4 separate regions of the Homo sapiens genome follow, and all the other regions are reported to be linked to region 1. The links are microRNA targets in miRTarBase. Many come from high-throughput screens and were not tested one by one. Region 1 holds a microRNA gene; each other region holds the end of a gene's coding sequence.

Region 1 (3,128 bases):
CAGCTGCCTCCTTGCCAGCGCAGCCTCAGACAGGAGTGCCTCTGAGGCTGTGTCGGAGGGCGCCTGGGCAGGAGGAGCCCAGCAACAGTGTGCCCAGCTCATCCCAGATCCCAGAGGTGTGACGTGTGAACTCAGGACGCCGGCCGAGAGCCCAGGTTCCGAGTTGCAGTGATCCCCACCCCAGGCCCACAGACAACACCCGAGAGGTCCTGAGAGCCCCAGGGCCATGTGAGCTCAGCCAAGAGCAGAGGCTGCCCCAGCTCCAGAGCCGCCTGATGCTGCCGTCGTCATGGGCCAGGCCAGGCCTACCTGGAAGAGGCGCGTGGCTGCGGGGCAAGGAGTACTTCGTCCTGCATGTTTCTCTCATGGTGTGGGGCAGAAGGTGGCCCAGGAACCTGCTGTCGAGGTGTCCCCGCGGGACCCAGGGACCTGAGCTGAGTCTGGGCTGGGCGCCGCCCCCGTCCCTTGGCTCGTCCTGGCGCCGAGAGTTCAGTGGGAAGCCCCATGGTGGTGCACCTCGTCCTTGTCAGGGCCCCACTGCTGGGGTCCCCTCTGCAGCTCTGCCACGGCTCCTGAAGGCTATGTCAGGGCTGCTGCACTCCCCTCAGGGAACCAGACGGTGCCCTCTGGAAGAAGCCCCTCGATCATTTTGTAAGGGATGGATCTGGGGTGCTCTCTTGTCAGCGCTGCCACAACCAGGTCCTTCTGCCTGACCTGGCCCCAGCCATTCACTTCTTCTGGGCACACAGGACCTTTGGCACCGGCCGTGGGAGCAACGCCAGCAGCAGTGGCTGTGTGGTAGGGGCCTTCCCCAGCCACGGACCCCAGGAAGCCTCCATTTGTGAAACAGGACCCCTGCACCTCTGTGGGAGAGGGAGGGGTCTCATCCAGGTTTACACCAAAGCCTTGGTTGCCATGACTGGATCCAGCCAGAAGGCACCCTGCAGTGGGGTCTGCGCAGCTACATTACTCTGGCCCCTGGGCCTCCTTGCCAGATCTCCACAGCACGTGAGAAGACGTTGGCCCTGCGGGAAGAAGGCGCTGGGGCTGGCGGCCCTGTCTCCCTGAGCATGCCGAGGCCCTGACGGGAGCATGCTCCATGGGGGCGACAGAGGGGCAGGGCTATGGCTGGGCTACCCCTGCCTCCCTCCCTGGCCGGCGGTGGTACTGAGCCGCATCACCAGCGCACGGAATCGGTCACGCCTGCTGTTGCGGTGGTGGCATTAAGAGCCACCTCCGGGCTCGTGTGTCCCCTGCCTCCCCAGGCCGAGACCCTGGCCAGGAAGGAGAGGGTGGGGCTCACGTGCTGTCTGCCACCTGCCTGCAGGCGTGGATGGCAGCCACAGCCTTGTGCCTCTGAAGGCATGAGCCAGCTAAAGGAGGAAGGCACGGCCCCCCTCCCCTGTCCCGAGTGCTTGCCTTTGTGGGGTCAGGGGTGCTGGGACAGGCCTTGGTGATGTATGCTGTTGCTGGGCAGTTGAGCTGGAAGGAGCCCGTCCCTGCTGGACACCTGCTCTCTCTTCTCTGGTGTGGATTCTGTCCTGCCACAACCTTTGGTCCCTTGGGGGACACATATTTGAGTCAGTCCCATCTGCTCAGCCAAAACCCCTTGATTCACCATGAGGGCGCCGTCCATCCTCAGCGCTGGGCGCCCTCCTTCCTGACCCAGATGGACATTTTCCTTCACGCCTGGCGTGGCTTAGTGAGTGTGTGTCTGGAATGCAGTCGGTGTGAGTGCAAACGCCAGGCAGTGTTCTCGGGCCACTGCTGCAGAGTGTGTGTGTGTCTGTGTGGCCACATGTGTGCCGTCACCACGTGCCATGTGTACACACGTGCCAGGCGCTGTCTTGAGACATTCGCGCAGTGCACGGCACTGGGGACACGTGGCACTGGCTGAACTGCCACACAGCCCCGTTCCAGGGCCTCTTGTCAAAGCCAAGAGGGCTCGTGTGTCGCATGTCTGTCCCTCTTGGGTGCCTGTGTGTGGCTTCTGTCTCATCGGGGTACGGCCGCCCTGCGTGTCTCACATCACCACATCCTGGCCGTCCGTGTGAGCGTCCATGTGACCATCGGTGTGAGCATCCGTGTGAGCATGTGACCGTCTGTGAGTGTGCGACGGTCCATGTGACTGTCCGTGTTTCCGTGTGTGTCCATGTGAGTGAGCGTCCATGTGAGCGTGTGAGCGTCCATGTGAGCATCCACGTGAGCGTTCGTGTGGAACGTGTGACCGTCCATGTGAGCGTCCGTGTGACCATCCGTGTGAGCATCCGTGTGACCGTCCGTGTGAGCGTCCGTGTGAGAGTGTGACCGTCCATGTGAGCGTCCGTGTGACCATCCGTGTGAGCAGCCGTGTGACCGTCCGTGTGAGCGTCCGTGTGAGAGTGTGACCGTCCATGTGAGAGTCCGTGTGACCATCCGTGTGAGCATCCGTGTGACCATCCGTGTGAGCATCCGTGTGACTGTCCATGTGAGTGTGACCATCCATGTGAGCATCCGTGTGACCGTCCGTGTGAGCGTCTGTGTGCCTGTCCGTGTGAGCATCCGTGTGACCGTCCATGTGAGAGTGTGACCGTCCATGTGAGCATCCGTGTGACCGTCCATGTGAGAGTGTGACCGTCCATGTGAGCATCTGTGTGACCATCCGTGTGACCGTCCGTGTGAGAGCGTGACCGCCCGTGTGAGCATCCATATGACCGTCCATGGAGCATCTGTGTGACTGTCCATGTGAGCATCCGTGTGACCATCCGTGAGCATCCGTGTGACCGTCTGTGTGAGTGTGACCGCCCATGTGAGCATCCGTGTGACCGTCCATGTGAGCATCCGTGTGACCGTCCATGTGAGAGTGTGACCGTCCATGTGAGCATCCGTGTGAGCGTGTGACCGTCCGTGTGTGTGACCATCCGTGTGAGAGTGTGACCGTCCATGTGAGCATCCGTGTGACCGTCCGTGTGTGTGACCATCCATGTGAGCATCTGTGTGACCGTCCGTGTGAGCGTCCGTGTGAGCGTGTGACCGTCCGTGTGAGCATGTGTGACCATCCGTGTGAGCGTCCGTGTAAGCATCCGTGTGAGCGTGTGACTGTCCGTGTGAGCGTGTGACCATCCATGTGAGCATCCGTGTGACCGTGA
Region 2 (3,116 bases), not on the chromosome of region 1:
CAAAGAGAAATTTATTGGTAATTTAGGAGATTTTCAAGGACCATTCTGAGCATGCTCAATTTTGTCCTTAGGCACGGTCTTTAAAACCTAACCACCTTACAAGTTGTGACTCCACTGTACCAAAATGAAGACTCTGAGACTTTTGGGCAAAAGAACCATTTTAAGTATTTGAGTATGAGAAAGATGACAGGATGAATCCACATTCTCTCAGATTAATCTGGTAACAAGGAACAAGAAAGAGTACATTCATCTGAATATACATGGTCAGGTAACAGTGGAATTCACATCAAGAATTTTTTAAAAAAAGAAACCAGTTCATGACATGTCCCATTGTTTTAAGACAACTAAAACAGTAAGAGCTCAATGTCATAAGTATTTATAAGCAACTCTTAATTATAAAATCCAAAGGAAAAATTCTTAACATAACTGGCTTTAGTATGATTAAAGGTTTCTCATTTGCATATATGTTTCAGAGTATTTAAAAAGAATGCCAAGAAAAATCATTTTTAAATTTTGCAATAATTTTACTCTATATACATTGATACCAATCATTTAACCCTGAAAACACAGTCTTCACTAACACAATGTAAAAAAATTTTTTGACAGTAAATGACCAGAAATATTGCATTACCATAAAGCTACAAAGAGGCTCATGCTCCTAAGAGCAAAGTTAGGAAAACAAAAAAATAATAATTATACCAGTGATAAGCACCAAGACAGAACTTTTTTGCACTTAGGGCCTGATTGGTTGTATTTAAACATAACTTCTACATTAGAGGGCCAAAATAACACCTTATAATAATGGCCTGAAAAAAAAAGATAAAAATACACAAATACATACAAAGGTCTCGAAACAGTGAAGAATGCCCACTTTAAAAATAAAATCAATCATACTCATTTTTAAATTAATGTGACATTTGCAAAATATATTTATATATCACTTTTCTTCCTTCTTAAGTTATTTTATACAATTCAGATTGCTCCATTTTTTTTCATCAGTTGTCACACTAAAGTAAACAAATATGTTAAATTATGTAGGTTTGCAGTAATGAATCCAAACCATTAGCGCTAGATTGAGTAGCTCCAGCAATCTTCCTTGCAACTCACTCCAGCTGGTGAAACAGATTATTTATCTTCATAATTTTAAAAGCCTTAGCCAGGTGAGAGAGAGAGAGAGTGTGTGTGTGTGTACAAGTTTGCCAGAGCAGTGTGAGACAGTAAGTACCAACCAGAAAGAGGTGAGACATACAAACAAGCTTACACAATGGTCCAACTAACCCCTAAAAGACTTGGGCAGTCAGACACTGAGTTACCCTCAAAATAAACCTGAGGCTGAGCAATGGGGGAACCAGAGGATCTGTCACCACAATGAAGAGTCAGTGACAGGTTTGGAAAACAAAAACTAAAGTGGGATGTCTCAGGCACAGCATTCCTGTGACACTGGAGGATACGAAGCAGCAATAGCCACTTTTCAGGCAGAGATAAGGGATTGGGATCCCCTGGGTCTGCAGCTGAGGGTCCCTGGCACTTCCCAGAGGGCACTGCAGCAGCCTCTGGCAGTGGCCCTCCACCTTACCCACTGACAATGTCTTAGGGGTCCCAGAGTGTGAACCTGGGCATCCCTCTTCCTGGTCCCAAGGGTGCTCCCAATACAATACTTTCCCTCCCGCAGGCTTGGCCAAAACCATCACCACCCTTTCACTTCCAACTCAGTTTCAGAAAGGGTGTCTCCTGTCCTGTGGGGTCCCTGAGTTTGAGATAATGCGAACATACTGGAGGCTGTAGCAATAACATGTGAAGTCAGGCAGTCACTTTAAAACCTAAGCAATCTACATGCAGTATTAGCCAGTTGTTGTTATCTCAGTAACATTTCTTACCGAAGTAGTTTTTCCACACAACTTACAACATAAAGGACAAAGAAAAAATATTGCTGGAATATGATAGACTTTTTAAAGTTCAGTGTTGAAACTCCTTATGGAAAAGAAAAGGAGATATTACTTTTCCACTTTCTATTTCCTGTCTGTGGCTTTGAGGTAAAAGAACACTAAGGTTCCTGTGAAGTTCCCTCTGCCATTCCACCAGCACAACAATCCCAGGGAATTCCTGAGCCGTCTACCTCCTAAATTTGTAATCATAACTCTGGGCATGTCTATACAGCTCTCTAGTTCAGTTTCAAAATCCACAGCATTTGGAAACAAAATGACACAGTTGCATTCTTTAAATGCCAGTCATGAAATCATCACTTAAAAAAACAAAGAGAAACTAGATAGAATATATATAAATATATGTGTCAAATAAAATTATTTCATTTTTAAAGGTATTTTATTTGGTATGTTGAAGACATGTCTATGACTGCTTCTAAAAGCCCTGGGGAGGAGCCTCATATAGCATGCTGCAGTATATTTTGTCCCAACATTGTCATGTGCAATCAGTGAATTTCAGTTACACCAAAATAATAATCTAACCTGTCTGAACATGCAACTTCTCTTTTTATTCTCTGCAAAACTAAATTCCCTTCTTTATAAAATGATTAGATTTGAGGATCAAGTTAAAATCCACTATATTCCAAGTTAAACTCTGAGGGTTCTGCACTATAGCATGATTTTAAATTCATATTGGCATTCACTTTTCTGAATTTTCCTATGCGTATACTAAATAAATTTCCTGGACCATATTTAGTGAGAAATTAAAAGAGATTTACATTGCACTGTGAAGTTCCAATAAATTCTCAATTGATCGGGGTTTATCTCTTAGCTCAATGTCATACAACCTCTACATGACGCAAGCATATGGACAAAAAGGATTTTAAATACAAAACCCTTAGCTCTGTGTCATAAATAAATTTGGGTAAAAACGCAGGCCTTCCACTGAGTCATCACGGCAAAGATGGCCCATCTTCTCTGCAAGCAGCAACCTAAAAAAAAACAACAAAAAAACCCCCACACAATTATCTGTTCATGCAGACACACAAACATACATTGTAATGAAAGGTAAGAACCTTACTTACCTTTCTTTGGCTAGGAGGACAGACATTCCCACAAGCTTAGCAAACTCTTCTGATGTTAGGGATCCCTTTTCTGAAACCTAATAGAAACACACAGCAGAAAAAAAATGTA
Region 3 (3,124 bases), not on the chromosome of region 1:
ACACAGACAGATAAAGTGAATGATGTTCATGGGCTTTTTCCTTTTAAAATAATTCCAAATTATATTCAAATAATTGAGCATAAAAGTTATAGATACATGTCAAGAGCCCCAAAACTGCAATTTTATATGTATATACTTGTCTTTTTTATTTTTATGCATACCTATGCTGATATTTCTATATAATTAATTAAGAGGAATATAAATATATTCTTGTAGACATTCATGGGGCTTTTCATTTTGTTACTACAATGCCTTCGTGCTATTGTAGTCACACACCTTCAGAAGCTGCTAGACTCATTCTCTTTTTGTGGAAAAAATTGTGATGTAAGGCTTCAGTGACTTGTGATGAATTACATTCAACACCTAATGATAATTCCTGCTATGGGCACTTTGAGGAAACCCTAGCAGAGAGCACTGACCTCGCTGCACAGTTCTGCGGGTCCTGGGTCTGTGGATCTCTGGAACTCTGCTGCCCTCTAATGGCCTACTTAGATAAGTGCCTGCCTCATAGGTCTGTTTTCTTAAGTTTCCTCCACCAATTTGATACCGGCACCATAAAAATCCAATATTCTTTGGTTTCGCTCACATATAAATGGATCTAAACTTGGTTTGTTGTCAGGTTAATTTTTCAACATAATTTTAATGTCATATGACGAAAAACTCATTCAGCATCCTCTGACTTAGTTCAAGCGTTATTGGGGCCAGTTGCTGTAAGTGGTTGGAAAATGGTAACCAAATATAAGTGACAGCTTTCACAGGATTCTGGCCATCTAAATTGGCTCCACGGCCTTTGATATTTATTGGGTTGTGTGGGTGTGTGTGGAAGCGTGTGGGTGTGTGAGGGTGTGCATGTAATTGGACTACATATTTTAAAAACAATAGCAATTTTACTTTCCAATTTCTTTATCTCATTTATTATCTTAAGATGTATGGATCCTAGATTATCTTCTCCTAATTAATCCTGTACTTCTTAGCGATCTAGTTACTTTATTTTCTCCCCCTTGCATCTTGCCTGGGAAACAGTGCATCACTGGTTACTAAGACTGAAATTCATAATTCAAGGAAAAAAAAGTAAACCGTAAGTCACATTTTAAGTCTCAATTGTATCCTGGTTTGGACTAGAGATGGTGGGATATAAGATTTATCAACATCACAGTGCATCAAACCCGTTAATAAATTACTTTCTGTGTAACAAGTAAAAGAAATCATTTCTAAAATGGAAGCACGAAAGGCATGGCATAGCTGGAGTTTAAGGTTCAAGCTTTGTATCCTCTATATATAATGTATTATGTTTTTCAAAAACTTTTTATTAGGAAAGCTATACCAGAGGCATAATCACTATACAATGATTAAACATTACCTTTACAATTTATAATCACTGAAATTACAGAATAAATATATGCACATTTCTTTTGAATCTTTGTGTGTGAGAGAGAAAACATTAAAAGTGCTTCCTACAAAGCTGTTAGTGATATATACCCAGTTGCTTTTTTTAATATTATATATATATATAAGAAAGTGCAGATGTTCTCCAAAAAATCTTGGCATCAGGATGAAGTGTCACAAAGAGGGTGCTCATCCCTAGGCGTGTGTCTTCGGCTGTTAAACCACCAGGCCTCTACTTCAGTAGAATCCAGCCTAGAATGTGACTTTTCCCAGGGTGGTAGGAGAGATGCTGTGAGCTGTACACTAGCAGTGAAGGGTGGTAGAACTATGGAGAGGAGAAAAATGGATCAAACCCGAACTAAGCAGATTGAGTTGAATGGAAATGGTATGGAGTGTGTGTGTGTGTGTGTGTGTGTGTGTGTGTGTGTGTGTGTACCTGCACCAGCAGGAAGAAACTGCAGGTTTAGGGACCATGGTCTGCAGATGGATATGTGTATGAGAGACAAGATAGTGAGTGAGAACATTCGAGCAAGACCCGCCCCCTCCCTCCCCATCTTGCAGTTTCCAGGCATGCAGCAAACTGCATTGTTAATACATGTACAGAATCTGTGCCATGATGATAAGAAAGAAAGCCACAAATGACAAATGTCAACTTGTTTCCCCCCCTTTAAATCAAAACTACAACTATAAAAAAAATAGTTACTGAAAATAAAAAGACACATTGAATTTTACTTAATTAGGATCCATACAATGATCCCCAGTATATCTTATACATGGCACAGTCAAAGTCTCAAGTTTCAGTATAAAAAAATAATGATAACATTTGCTGGCAAAAGTCTGCGAAGGCACTTTCATTGATTAATGATCTGAGTATGGCCCTTCCTCCAAATCGCATCTGAGAGGGGAGAGCATACATCTGTATTCTCTAGTTATCATGCGGTTTTAGTTTTGTTCAGGGTAGGAAAGATCGTGAGGATGGAGTTACTGGGACAAGTGTAAAGGGAGCAAGGGATATATTTCTTTTATTTTCCTTTTCTTTTGAAAAAAAAAAAGCACTAATATATTTTCTTCTCTCTGTTAGAACCTGTATGTTGTCTTCTCCAGGACTTCGAGGTAATCCGGCTTGGTTTGAAGTTTGGCCCTTAACTCGAGGTAATCACTTTTTTGGGTTTGGTGGTCTGTGAAGCCCTTTCCAGCCGAGAAGAGAAGGGTTTCTTTGAGCCTGGCATCCTGCTGTAAGTCTGGGTATTGCATGCCAGGAGGGTGCACGTGCAGTTCCTTTAATTTGGGCACTGTTCCATAGAGACAGTCCACAAATCCCACTGTGCAGGGGGCAGGCTGTGGCCTCTCTCGATCTAGTAGCATACTGCCACTACCACAGCCTCCCCCAGGAGGAAACAGCACCACCCCACCATTTTTCTCATGGTGGCGGAACCCTGCCAAGTCTCCCCCAGTTCCCCCAACTACTCCTGAAACCCCACCAACTGCTGGGTGGTGAGGGTGATGGTGATTCACCGTCACTATGGTGTTAAGCTGGGAGCTGGACACTGCTAGGGCCCACTCCTTCTCTTTTTCCAGCAAGGTCCGGTAGTTACTATGGTTCTCCTTGGGTGTCTCAGCAAACTGCTCACTTCCTAGGAGAGCCTCACCCATTCCCGGTGGTTGTGTCCCTGGACCCCCACGTTCTGCACTCCCTGCTTCTTGGGCTGATGAAACAGCCACCTCCTCCTCCTCACGA
Region 4 (3,105 bases), not on the chromosome of region 1:
TTTCATTTCACAAAAAAAAAAAAAGGCGGGAAATTGTGCTTTGTCAAGAGGCACTACAAGAGAAAGTTTCTTCTTCCAAATAGATATTATATGACAGATATTGAATAAATAGACATATATGCATTGTAATTCGCAAAGATCTGGCAAGACCACAGGCTAAAATGCCCACAGATTCACTTAGAACCACTGCAAACTTGGCAGTGAAATTAAAAAATAAAAGGCAAGACTTAGCATTGAAAAATACCTAATAAATTTTTGGTTGAAGTGTAAAAGATACCAAATGCGGATGCCATCGATAGATGAACCACCTTGTAAGAGCTTGGCAAAATCAGTTTCCATTACGTGTACAGAGTGACCTTCAGCAACAGTGTAAGAAGACAATTTGGAAAGAGTAACTCGGAGATCAGGAAGCAGCAACCATGGACTTTCTGATTAAAGCTGCAGCATACTACAGAAATAGGAAGGATGGGGCCAGGGCTAACTGCAAACAACCATCCTTTTGCAAAGGTATATGACGCTTATGTCAAGATAATTTTTAAACATCATTATTTGAAAAAGTACAGGAAAATGTCCCTTTAAAAACTCCAGAGGTTACTGAGCAGCTAGAATTAGCTTGTATTGCAACATGTCTTCTCCCTGTATATTGTAAGTTCTGAGTTAATATCTACACATAGAGGTTTTTTTTTTAACTCCTACCTTTTATACCTTTCAAATATATAAATAGTATTAACAGTTATATTACAATGTTTGTGTAGTAAACAGAAAATAACTTTCAAAGTGATATTGCATGAGGTCTTTGACAAGGTTTTGTGAAAGCACAACTCAAAAAAAAAAAAAAAATCCAACCATGTGGGACTGTTTAATGGCCAGTTTAAAGCATGGATTACGTTCACTAGGCCAGTCCTGAATGTGAGGTCTCCTCTTGCAATTACTGTAAGTAGAAGTGGAAAGTAATGCTTCTGGTGTTTCTCATAGGAAGCCGAAAGAGATCTGGAGTACTATAGTAGATTGCAGCTTTAATGCTCATCCCATTAAACATCCAGTCAGCATTAGTTCTGCTTTACATAAGGTAATTGCGATGTAGGTAACTGGGATAATGTTTTCTTTTAGGATGAGTAAGTGATTCTACTGAAATCGCTTCACATACTCTATTGCCTGGAGCTGCACAACGATTCAAAAACAGTTCTTGTTAGGGCTGTCATCCCAGGAAAAGGGACAGGAGAGATCAGGGACTGAAAATGTTTGATTAGGTAGATGGAATGTGTACGAAGAAGAGGAAGCCCAAAGTGAAGCAGAAATCAGAAATGTCTTTTGGGAGAGGGAAGGATGGAGATTTATTTGAGAGGGAGCCCCTTTAACTGGGCAGCAACTTCTTTTCTAACTTAATATTACACTGAACTATTTTCTAGTAAAAAACAAAAAGACAAAAAAACAGCAACAACAAACAACTTTTAAACGAGCAGGCTTATTAATTTTCAGATTTGAAGCCACAAGCAGGTAAATAAATTTCACAACAAAATGTGGCTCATACTATGAATTCCATATGTCCAATGTCAAAATGTCATTTGATCAAGACTTGCACTAGTGGACAAAGTTTTCTCTGCACTGAATTTCAGTTTTACTTATTTGGAATTCCACAGAAATGCATCTGTTCACTACAGTAATGACAAATTGAATAACGGAACGTAGCAAGTCATTTTATTGAGTCATTTTAAGTGTGCATTGTGTCTTTAAGATTTATTTGACTTGTATCATTTTAATGTGCCCTGATTGTTTTCACTTCACTTTTTTTTTTTTCGGCAGTGTCGTTTATTTTGTTAAATACATACCTCAAAAATTACCCATTAAGCTGCCAGATAGGAAGCCATAGAATTAAAAAAAAAAAATCAGGGACAAACACAAAAAATAAATAGGAATTCAAAAATAGTCACCCCACCCTGAGAGCAGGCCGCAGTTTATCAAAAAGCCAAAGCGACTCACTGTGAAGTGGTTTTTTTAATACATAAACAAGTCTTTTCTTTAAGAACTCATTTCACAGTCTATTCTTTCGGATTGCAAAGTCTCTGTCCCATGCAATTTTAATATATATATGTAAATATAGAGATATATACATATACATATACACACACACTTGTAGCTTCCTTCATTTATTTCATAGTTCTTTTCATCCTGGTACTTGCCTGATGTAACTTCCGTTAAGTGCAAGGATAATGAAGGCAGAGTCTCCTGTGATTATAATGACTATGATCCAGTCATAGAGACGGGATAAAGTGTAACGCTTTAGTGTCTTTGCCAAGGCGATGTCTGATTCGGAAATACTGAACTTATTCAGTCTATAGGTGTATCCTGTGCAACAAAGAAATGTCCAAAAGGGTAAGAAAAACAAAACAGACATAAAAAGACAAAAATAAAGCCAAAAAAACCCAAAAACAAAAACAAAAAACAAACTAACAAAAAACTTTTAAAGAAATGAAAGCAGAAAATCCTTGGACCGATGTATTGCTTTGCCTAGTAGAAGTTCACATTATCTCTGGTCAATTTCGGCAGGTGCTGCCTTGCTTTTGTCAGCATTTTCCTCCTCAGCCTCCACTTTGTACATCTCCTCGGAGCCTTCCTCGCTGTCGTTCTCCTCTGACTCGGTCAGCAGCTCCTCGTCCTTATATTCAGCCACGTCCACCGCGGAGCCCAGGTGCTCTTTCAGCTTCCCGTGGTGCTTCACGTGGTACCGCTGGTTCTGGAAGAACTTGATGATGGTGTGTTTGGGGAGATCCAGCTGAGCCGAAAGAGTGTGGATGGCTTCCTGGTCTGGGTACAGGCCTACATCATGAATAAAGCTTTGGAGGATCCCCAGGGCTTCTAAGGAGATCTTTGTGCGAGACCGGGGCTTTTTGGCACAACTGTCTTCAGTCGGAGGAGGTGGGGGAGGCGCTTCTTCTCTGGGAGGGGAACTCTCCTTGGCTGGCTGAGACTGCTGTCTATGAAGTACCTGATAATTAAGAGAGAAAAAAATGAACACTGGACTCATGATTTTACCTTTCCAAAACCATCAGCCCTCTGAAATATGTGTTATCTATCTAGCACTGGAGGTAAGCTATAGTCATTTGT

What was found. The annotated mature microRNA hsa-miR-3177-5p reads UGUGUACACACGUGCCAGGCGCU and lies in region 1 at 1,822-1,844, shown strand. An mRNA with a match to its seed (bases 2 to 7 or 8) in the 3' UTR can be bound and repressed. Matches are read on the target gene's strand: a 7mer-m8 pairs with bases 2 to 8, a 7mer-A1 pairs with bases 2 to 7 and ends in A, and an 8mer does both.
Region 2: the mRNA of VPS36 is a reported target of hsa-miR-3177-5p. Seed matches in the 3' UTR shown: 8mer at 1,186-1,193.
Region 3: the mRNA of SLITRK3 is a reported target of hsa-miR-3177-5p. Seed matches in the 3' UTR shown: 7mer-A1 at 1,816-1,822.
Region 4: miRTarBase lists SATB2 as a target of hsa-miR-3177-5p. Seed matches in the 3' UTR shown: 7mer-A1 at 1,261-1,267 and 7mer-m8 at 343-349.

The regions. Positions count from the first base shown.
Region 1 is chr16:1,733,174-1,736,301 of GRCh38, forward strand. MIR3177 (microRNA 3177) reads left to right here and starts at 1,812; the gene lies at 1,812-1,893. All of the region lies in intron 4 of MAPK8IP3 (mitogen-activated protein kinase 8 interacting protein 3), which reads left to right. RefSeq lists enhancers at 1,791-2,292, 2,293-2,792.
Region 2 is chr13:52,413,010-52,416,125 of GRCh38, forward strand. It overlaps VPS36 (vacuolar protein sorting 36 homolog), which reads right to left. Exons shown (of 14, transcript NM_016075.4): 13 at 3,008-3,084; 14 at 1-2,914. The coding sequence ends at 2,821. Among named protein-coding and RNA genes, the nearest start is that of THSD1, 8.4 kb to the left of the region's middle.
Region 3 is chr3:165,185,434-165,188,557 of GRCh38, forward strand. It overlaps SLITRK3 (SLIT and NTRK like family member 3), which reads right to left. Exons shown (of 2, transcript NM_001318810.2): 2 at 1,287-3,124. The coding sequence ends at 2,464. Among named protein-coding and RNA genes, the nearest start is that of SLITRK3, 9.4 kb to the right of the region's middle.
Region 4 is chr2:199,269,687-199,272,791 of GRCh38, forward strand. SATB2 (SATB homeobox 2) reads right to left here. Exons shown (of 11, transcript NM_001172509.2): 11 at 1-2,986. The coding sequence ends at 2,525. Among named protein-coding and RNA genes, the nearest start is that of SATB2, 190 kb to the right of the region's middle. RefSeq lists an enhancer at 2,199-3,105.